Linked DNA regions of Homo sapiens. The protein of the gene in region 1 interacts with the protein of each later gene in a biochemical or structural test. Each region holds a gene or a part of one and is shown on either strand. Other genes may lie near its edges. The genes, in order: LCN1 and LMBR1L.

Region 1 (3,908 bases):
TAAATGTGATTTCTCCCGGGTCTGTTAAAGACGTCACTCCACTGTCTTCCGGAAGGCAGCGTTGCTATTGAGAGGTCTGCCATCAGTCCACATCCGCTTTTATGGTATGTAGTGTGGCTCTTCTTTCTGGTCATTTTGACTTTTTTTCTCCTTTCCTGGATGATCTGCATTTCACTGTAATATTCTAGGAGTGGATTTCTCAATTTTGATCATTCCTTGGTAATTTAGATCTGGGGTGTCATCTTCATGTCTTTTCAATTCTGAAGAATTCTGAGCTATTCTGTTGCTTTGTTGCCATTTTAGAAAATGTTTTTCTTTCAGAACTCCTATTCTGTTTATATTGGAACCTCCTGATCTATTCTCCATGTGTGTTAACTTTGTGCATGTGTGTGCATGTGTGTATGTGTGTGAGTGTGCATGTGTGTGTGTATGTGTGCATGTATGTGCATGTATGTATGAATGAATGGTGTGTGCACGCGTGTATGTCTGCGTGTGTATGTGGGTGTGCATGTGTATGGGTTTGTGTGCATTTGTATGTGTGCACATGTGTGTGTGTGCATGTGTGTGTGCGTGTGTGTGCATGTGTGTGTGTATATCTCTGTGTGTTGTGTTTTCAGAGCTGCTGCACTCTAGTTGGTTTCCTCCACTCATTTTATTACTAGCTCCAGGCTGGAGACTGAATCTATCTGTAACACCTCAATTTCTCTTTTGAATTTTTCTGCTTTCATTGATTTTGTTAGTACTATCTTCCATGACACTAAGTCTCTTTTCTACTATGTCAAGTCTGGAATTTAACCTGTCTATTGAGTTTTTTATTCACTTTATTATTCATCTTCAAGATTTGTAATTATTTCTATTTCGTCTCTCCTTATTTCTTATATTCTGGCCAGTTCTAATTTTATACTTTATATATTTTTAAATCACTAGGCATCTTGATCATACTCCTGCAGTTTTAAAGTGTGTGTCAGACTTTCCTTGGCTGGTGTAAGTTCCTGTACCAATTGCTCATTTTTAGCCTGCCTTTCTTAGTGTGGTGTTTCCTTGGGTAATTTGGAACCTGGCCTTTCTAGCTTATTTCAAGGTGAGGATATTGTGTCTCTGCATTTCTGCCTTTCTCTGCCATCTTGTTGTCACTGTCCTCTGTCTAGCAGTGTTTTGTAGCCTCTGCTCCCATCCCGGGTCCCAGGCTTCTGCTCTGCAGTGATGCAGAGCATGTCACAGATAAAGTCATCCTTTCCAAGGACGGCTTGTCTCAGCTTCTGCCCTTGAGGCTGTGTTGATGTCCTCTTGCCTTCCTATGCCCACAGTGCTCCACTAAGTTATACGAAGTTACAGCCCTGGGATGTGTCAAGGAGGGTTTCTCAGCCTTCTTTCTGGAGTCAGGGAAGCCCCTCCCATCACTCCCAGGAGCCGGACCTAGGCCCTCTCTGCCTGCCTTGGGACTTGGAGCTGACAGGCCCCTGCCTCTGCCCCATCACCAGCCTGTGCTTCTCCTCCATTCCTTGTTTTATGTGAGTGTGTGTGCGTTTGTGCATGTATATATGTACACACATGCATACACACACACACACCTGTCTTGGTCTTCTGTCTGTCTGACCTATTGCTGCTCTGTGTGTGGAGCAGAGAGGGTCGTTACTGCACACCTTGCTCAGGACAGTGGACACCGTCTTTAAATGCACACGGGATCGTGTTCACACAGGAGGGTCCCTTTTTTTCCATGATGAATCTGAGGCCAAGTAACCTGCCCAGAGATGCAGGAAGCTCAGCTGAGCCCCAAGCCCACGGCCCTCGGACTCCAACCCCAAACCCCCTTGACAGTGTGCACGTCAGCAAGTGTGGGATGGCTGGGGGGCATCTGTTACGGCTGCACACGTCCCCAGGAGGCCTGCACACCCTTCACTCCCTTCAGTTTCCCTTCAGGTGAAATCTGCAAATCTGCTCCTCTGGACCTGGTCCTGTCCAAGTGATCCTCTGGGATTAACAAGCTGTTATTCACCAGCCTCCAACAATAATGGCAGGTTATCTGCTCCATTGCAGAACTGGCAGTGGTTTACATCCAGGAAGGGATTGGTCAGTCTCCTGTGCCAGGTCCCTGGGGGACCCTGAGCCCAGCGGTATAAAGGGCGGCTGTGGGAGGACTGGTACAGCCTCTCCCAGCCCCAGCAAGCGACCTGTCAGGCGGCCGTGGACTCAGACTCCGGAGATGAAGCCCCTGCTCCTGGCCGTCAGCCTTGGCCTCATTGCTGCCCTGCAGGCCCACCACCTCCTGGCCTCAGACGAGGAGATTCAGGATGTGAGGCCCGGATGGGAAGGCTGGGCTGGAGGGGGCAAGGGGCGAGGCTGAGACTGGATGGAGACCCCATGCCTCCTCCATCCAAGGAGACCCTCGTTTTTGGGTTGGGCATTCAAGCCCTGCCCTGAGGGAATGGTGGGATGGGGCAGCAGGGGTCTGGGCTGGCAGGGTAGGTGGCGCAGGGGTGCAGAGTGGGCAGGGCTGGGAGGGTGGGGGTCTGGCTGACTTCACTTCTTCCCTGGGGATGAGGGCTCCTGTGGTCCTGGCTGGCTTGTGGGGGCTGGAGCCACCTTCAAGTGGGCCTGGCGAGGGTGCTGGGTGTTTTCTGGGTGGGTTAGATTGGGGAACGTTCCCCGTTTCCAGCCCTCGGGGTGCGGTAGAGTCTAGGGGCTGCAGGCCAGGGAAGGGGGAGGCTCTGGAGCAGTCGGCCTGAGCCTGATAGAGAGGGGCCTTCTCCAGGTGTCAGGGACGTGGTATCTGAAGGCCATGACGGTGGACAGGGAGTTCCCTGAGATGAATCTGGAATCGGTGACACCCATGACCCTCACGACCCTGGAAGGGGGCAACCTGGAAGCCAAGGTCACCATGCTGTGAGTGTCTGCCAGCCGGCCGGGCAGCCTGCAACCTGGTCTAGGGCCTTCCCTTTCCCCACCCAGGAGAGCTCTGGTGCTGGGGAGGTGGGCAGACCTGCTGGGAGGCCTCTCTCGGCCCCTCCTGCAATGCTTGAGGGCAAACTGTGCCACTGAGGTGCCTCGGCTGGAGGGGCCCTGAGGGGGCAGAGGCCCCGGATCAGACCCTGTGGGCTACCAGTGGCAGCCCTGGGTACCGCCCACTTCCTCCTCCGACTAGGGAATGTCTGGTGACGTGCAGGCCCCTTTGGGAAAAGGTGTTTACCCCCGACCAGAGTCAGAGCCAGTCCTGGCAGTAAATTTCTGCTTTGGAGAAGTGCAGGGATGGGGCTTGCAGAATGACCAAGAGGGGGCATAGGAGAAGACACCATGGAGAAGACCCCCTTGAAATCCCTGTGTAGCGCTCACCTGTGCGGCTCTCACCTGGGCTGCTTCCACCCGCGTGGCTCACATCTGTGACTTCCCACCTGTGTGATTTCACCCGCATGGCTCCCTCCTGAGTGGCATGCAGTGCCTGTGCTCCGGTCCTGGGGGCTGAATCTCAGGAAGTCACTGACCCTGGCAATGACCCCGATTTTTTTTTCCCCCAAAGCCCCTCACTGAACCTTTCCCTCTCTGGGCCAGATGATGATGGATATGGGGCTTGTGCCTGAATGTCTCTAAAAGGAAGAATGCAGCTGGCGGGATGAGGCTCAGGCCCACGCCACAGACGCTGCCTGCAAACCAGGCAGCCTGGGTGCCTCTGGCAGGAAATGTGTTGGGGGCGGGGGGTTTGGGAAGGCAGCCACCAGGAGGAGCGGTGCAGAGCTCCTGGCCATCTCGGGAGACCCCGGGAACTGCCGCATGGGACCCGGAGGGGCCGCTGGTGCCTGGGTCTGAGATGCAGAGAAGCACCCTCCTCCATGGGCCTGTGGCAGACTCGGGGCCACATTTGCAGGGCATTGCAGCATGGTTGCTCCAGGGCCGGGGGAGGCACAGGCCAGGGC
Region 2 (3,908 bases), on another chromosome or scaffold:
ACCACCACACCCAGCTAATTTTTGTTTTTTTAGTAGAGATGGGGTTCCACCATGTTGGTCAGGCTGGTCTTGAACTCCTGACCTCATGATCCTCCCACTGTGGCCTCCCAAAGTGCTGAGATTACAGGCGTGAGCCTCAACGCCCAGCCCAATTTTTGTATTTTTAATAGAGACGGGGTTTCACCATGTTGGCCAGGCTAGTCTTGAACTCCTGACCTCAAGTGATTCATCTGCCTCGGCCTCCCAAAGTGCTGGGATTACAGGTATGAGCCACAGTGCCTGGCGGAGACTCTCTGTTCTTGATTATAGAGCCAAGCTGGCCAATGGCTCCTCCTCTGGGCAGCAGCAGCTTACTTGGAGTAGAGTAGGAATGAATATGCAGATTAACCTGGCTGAGTTCCGCCATCACTGTCACTTGGCAGTCCAGCCAGCTCTAGAAACACTATAGATATTGGGCCCCAGCTAAAGCCCACTGTTAGGGGTAGAGGATTAAATGAGACTCTGGTTTGGCCCAGAGCAGACCTGATCTTTCAGGCCCCTGAATAAGCATGGAATAGAAGTTGTGACTTGGTCTAGAAACATGACACCTTCTTTGGGTCAAGGCAGCAGTGTGCATGGAGGTAGGAGGGTGGGGTAGCAATGGGGTGCCAGGACAATGCAGACGTCTTCCTCCCCTCAAACCTGCTTTCATTCCCAATAATGTGCTCGGAGTAAATTCCCTCTGGTTCTGTAGCTGGTTTGAAATGCGTGTGCATGTGCATTTCTAGGAGTTTTCTTTGCCCATTTACCAACCAGAGTTGGGCTGAAGCTATTTTCTCCCAATGAAGTCCTTGTAGGGCTGGGCATGTTGCTGTTTCCCCAGGTGCATGGGGCAGCCCCTGTCTGGCCCTTCTTTGAGGCCCCTGGGGCCCTGACTAGAAGGAAGTACCTGGGGGATCAGAACAGAACATACTTCCAGATGGAACCCTTGGAAGTATGGAGCCTTATCTTGAGGAAGTGATGGCCTGGAATTAACAGAGAGGCCCTTGGGGCTGTGGAGTGTGCTGAAGGTTAGAGCTTCTCATCCCAGCTCATATTCTGCTACAGATATCAACACTTCTGTTTGCAACACTGTACATCCTCTGCCACATCTTCCTGACCCGCTTCAAGAAGCCTGCTGAGTTCACCACAGGTACTTTGATTTCCCTCCCTCCTGCTAGAGTCCCTGTTGCCATGGACCAGCCTCAGGGGAATGGGCCTATGGTACCCACTGGGAAAGGAGCAGTGGCTGTGTGGGGCTGTTCTGGAGCCTTTGCCTCTTCAGCCTCCCTTTCTGCAAGATAGGGGCAAGGGCGGCTAGATGGATGTGTCTGCTGGGCAAGTCATATAACATTTCTGATCCTCAGTTTCATCCTACAAAATGGGCGTAACAATGTCTACCTACTCCATTGTGTGGACCAAAGGAGATGGTTAATGTGAAAGCCCTTTGTGAACCTGAAGTGAGCAACTGCTGGATGAATGTCATTACGGGCACAGGCTCTGTGTCATCTCCTCTCCTAGTGCTTCCACAGCCAGGACCAGAGACCTCCCTGATGACTGGGGAACCTGGTGATGGTGGCCTTTCTCTTTATGGGGAGCCTGAGTATGCTCAGATCGCAGCTTTCCTTCCCTAGACATTGTGTAATTGGGGGTGGGGGCACACTTGCCCCAGTTCCTAGCTCCAGCCTTTCCTCCTCTTAGGATGGCTCAGGATGAGTCCCCCCTCAACAAGGCAGCTACCCAAGAGTAATTCCCCTGGGGACTTTCTGTGTGAATCTCCCCTTCCCCCTCCTCTCTTTTCCCTTTCCTGGACCCAGCCACTGATGTAACCAACCTCACAGACTAGTTGTTTATTATATTAATAGTTTGAGCATATAAAGAGGAACTTGTGATGGGAGAGATCTAGGGAGGAGTAAAGAAGTATAGGAATGTCTGGCCTGTATTCTCTTCACCTGGGACCACTGATTTTTAAGCTGCCACCTTGGCTGGAGAACAGGCTATGGAGTTCATAATGTGTGGTCTCCTGGAGCCTCCTGTTCAGCTCTGCCTTCTTTGAGGGGGCAGGGATGGGGCAGGGAGCACATTGTAATACTAACGGCCTCAGAGCTGCCCCCTGATGTCCTCCTGCCTGTTCCCCGTGCCTCTGTCTCTTACAGTGGATGATGAAGATGCCACCGTCAACAAGATTGCGTAAGTGTCCCTGCCTCAGCACCTAACATCAGTGGTCTTTAGGAACTGGGATCTAGGGAGGCCTGGAGCTGGAGGGAGAAGGGGGAAGTCTCACACAGTGAAGAGAGAGTTTCTGTTTCCACCCCATTTCTGGCTTCCGGCTTTACCTCACCCTGGGGATGCTCAGAAAAGCTGCTGTTCCTGTCTTCCTGGTTAGGCCAGGAGCTTGTGGGAGCCTCATGGCCAGGAACGTCCGCTGGGGCCTGAGTCACCGGAAATGGCTCCAGCTTGGCTTCACCTCCCAGCGACCAATAGGGAGGGAGTGGAGTGGGGATGCACATTGATGGAAAAAGAGCAGGGTGTGGGGAAGGTGGGAACCCCTGAGGGAGGGGCATGCTTGGTTCTGGGAGAAAGGCCCATATTCCAGGCTGCCAGTGTTCACTGGTACATACAGAAAAAGATAGAGATATGACTCCTTTGAGTCAATAGATCAGAAGGCAGCCCTCCACCCTTGATGGACCAAAGAGCTAGAAGTGCCCATCTTCAATATATGCAGCCCGGGGCATAGACCTTGGCTATGAAGCTAGGTTTCAGTTCCCTCTTGTCCTCCTTTGCCCTCATGCCTTTGTGCAGGGCATAGCCATATGGGATGACCCTGTGCTTATCTGGGCTAAAAGAGGTAAGCTCAGAAATCCATATCCCTGACCAAAGAAGAGAAGCCAGGTCCCCTAGTTTTGGCATCATACCTGGCATAACTGATAGGCATGTATGGGAGGACCACATTCCTGGGGACAGCCTGGGTATGTGACATGGCAGGTGACCAGGTTCCCATGAATGCCCGAGGCTGTGCCCATCCCATGAGCTGGGGCTTCCCTGGAGGTAAAGAGCTAGGGTGGGGTGGCAGTGGGTAGAACCCCAGCTGGACAGCTCCTTCCTTAGCTCTGTGATTGCTACAGCTGGTTCTGGAAGCCACAGGCGCCCTCAGGACAAATGGGGCTTCTTCAGCACAGGGTAGTGAGTGCTGAGCTAAGCAAGGACACTGTCCCCTTCTCTGCCCAGGCTCGAGCTGTGCACCTTTACCCTGGCAATTGCCCTGGGTGCTGTCCTGCTCCTGCCCTTCTCCATCATCAGCAATGAGGTGCTGCTCTCCCTGCCTCGGAACTACTACATCCAGTGGCTCAACGGCTCCCTCATCCATGGTGTGTGGCTCCTGGAAGCTGCTTGGGGTAGGGATAGGGAGCAGAGAGCAGATAGAGTTGGGTGGACTCAGGCAGCCGTGCGCCAAGCAGTCATATGTCGCACCTTCCCACTCTGCTTCTCCTGCAAATGGTCAGTCTCCTGTGGGTTGCCCCTCCCCTTACTGACCACTTCTGCTCTTCCTTTTTTGCTCTAGGCCTCTGGAACCTTGTTTTTCTCTTCTCCAACCTGTCCCTCATCTTCCTCATGCCCTTTGCATATTTCTTCACTGAGTCTGAGGGCTTTGCTGGCTCCAGAAAGGTAAGTAGGGGATATGTATCCAGGCAGGAAACGGAATTCCACACACATGGTTCAGCTGAAGAGATTTTAATAAAGAGGCTATTTGCAGAGGTTTAGTTAACGGAAGTTTGAGGCTCTAGTGACAGTAGGAAGTCATTACCACCCTTAGGCCTGTAGGGACAAAGGGAGGAAATGGTTTCTAGAACCCACTAATAGCTGAAGCCAGGGATGTGAAGCTGCCCAGA

Evidence for each region.
Region 2: the proteins of LCN1 (region 1) and LMBR1L form a complex in vitro, tested with the Homo sapiens proteins (one study listed by BioGRID).

The regions. Positions count from the first base shown.
Region 1 is NC_000009.12:135,519,295-135,523,202, forward strand, and holds the start of LCN1 (lipocalin-1 isoform 1 precursor), read left to right. Parts: upstream 1-2,145; 5' UTR 2,146-2,203; coding exon 2,204-2,293; intron 2,294-2,752; coding exon 2,753-2,883; intron 2,884-3,908. UniProt on the Homo sapiens protein: Could play a role in taste reception. Could be necessary for the concentration and delivery of sapid molecules in the gustatory system.
Region 2 is NC_000012.12:49,104,224-49,108,131, reverse strand, and holds part of LMBR1L (protein LMBR1L), read left to right. Parts: intron 1-1,086; coding exon 1,087-1,171; exon of another isoform or gene 1,172-1,445; coding exon of another isoform or gene 1,446-1,587; intron 1,588-2,174; coding exon 2,175-2,208; intron 2,209-3,246; coding exon 3,247-3,386; intron 3,387-3,580; coding exon 3,581-3,684; exon of another isoform or gene 3,685-3,908. UniProt on the Homo sapiens protein: Plays an essential role in lymphocyte development by negatively regulating the canonical Wnt signaling pathway.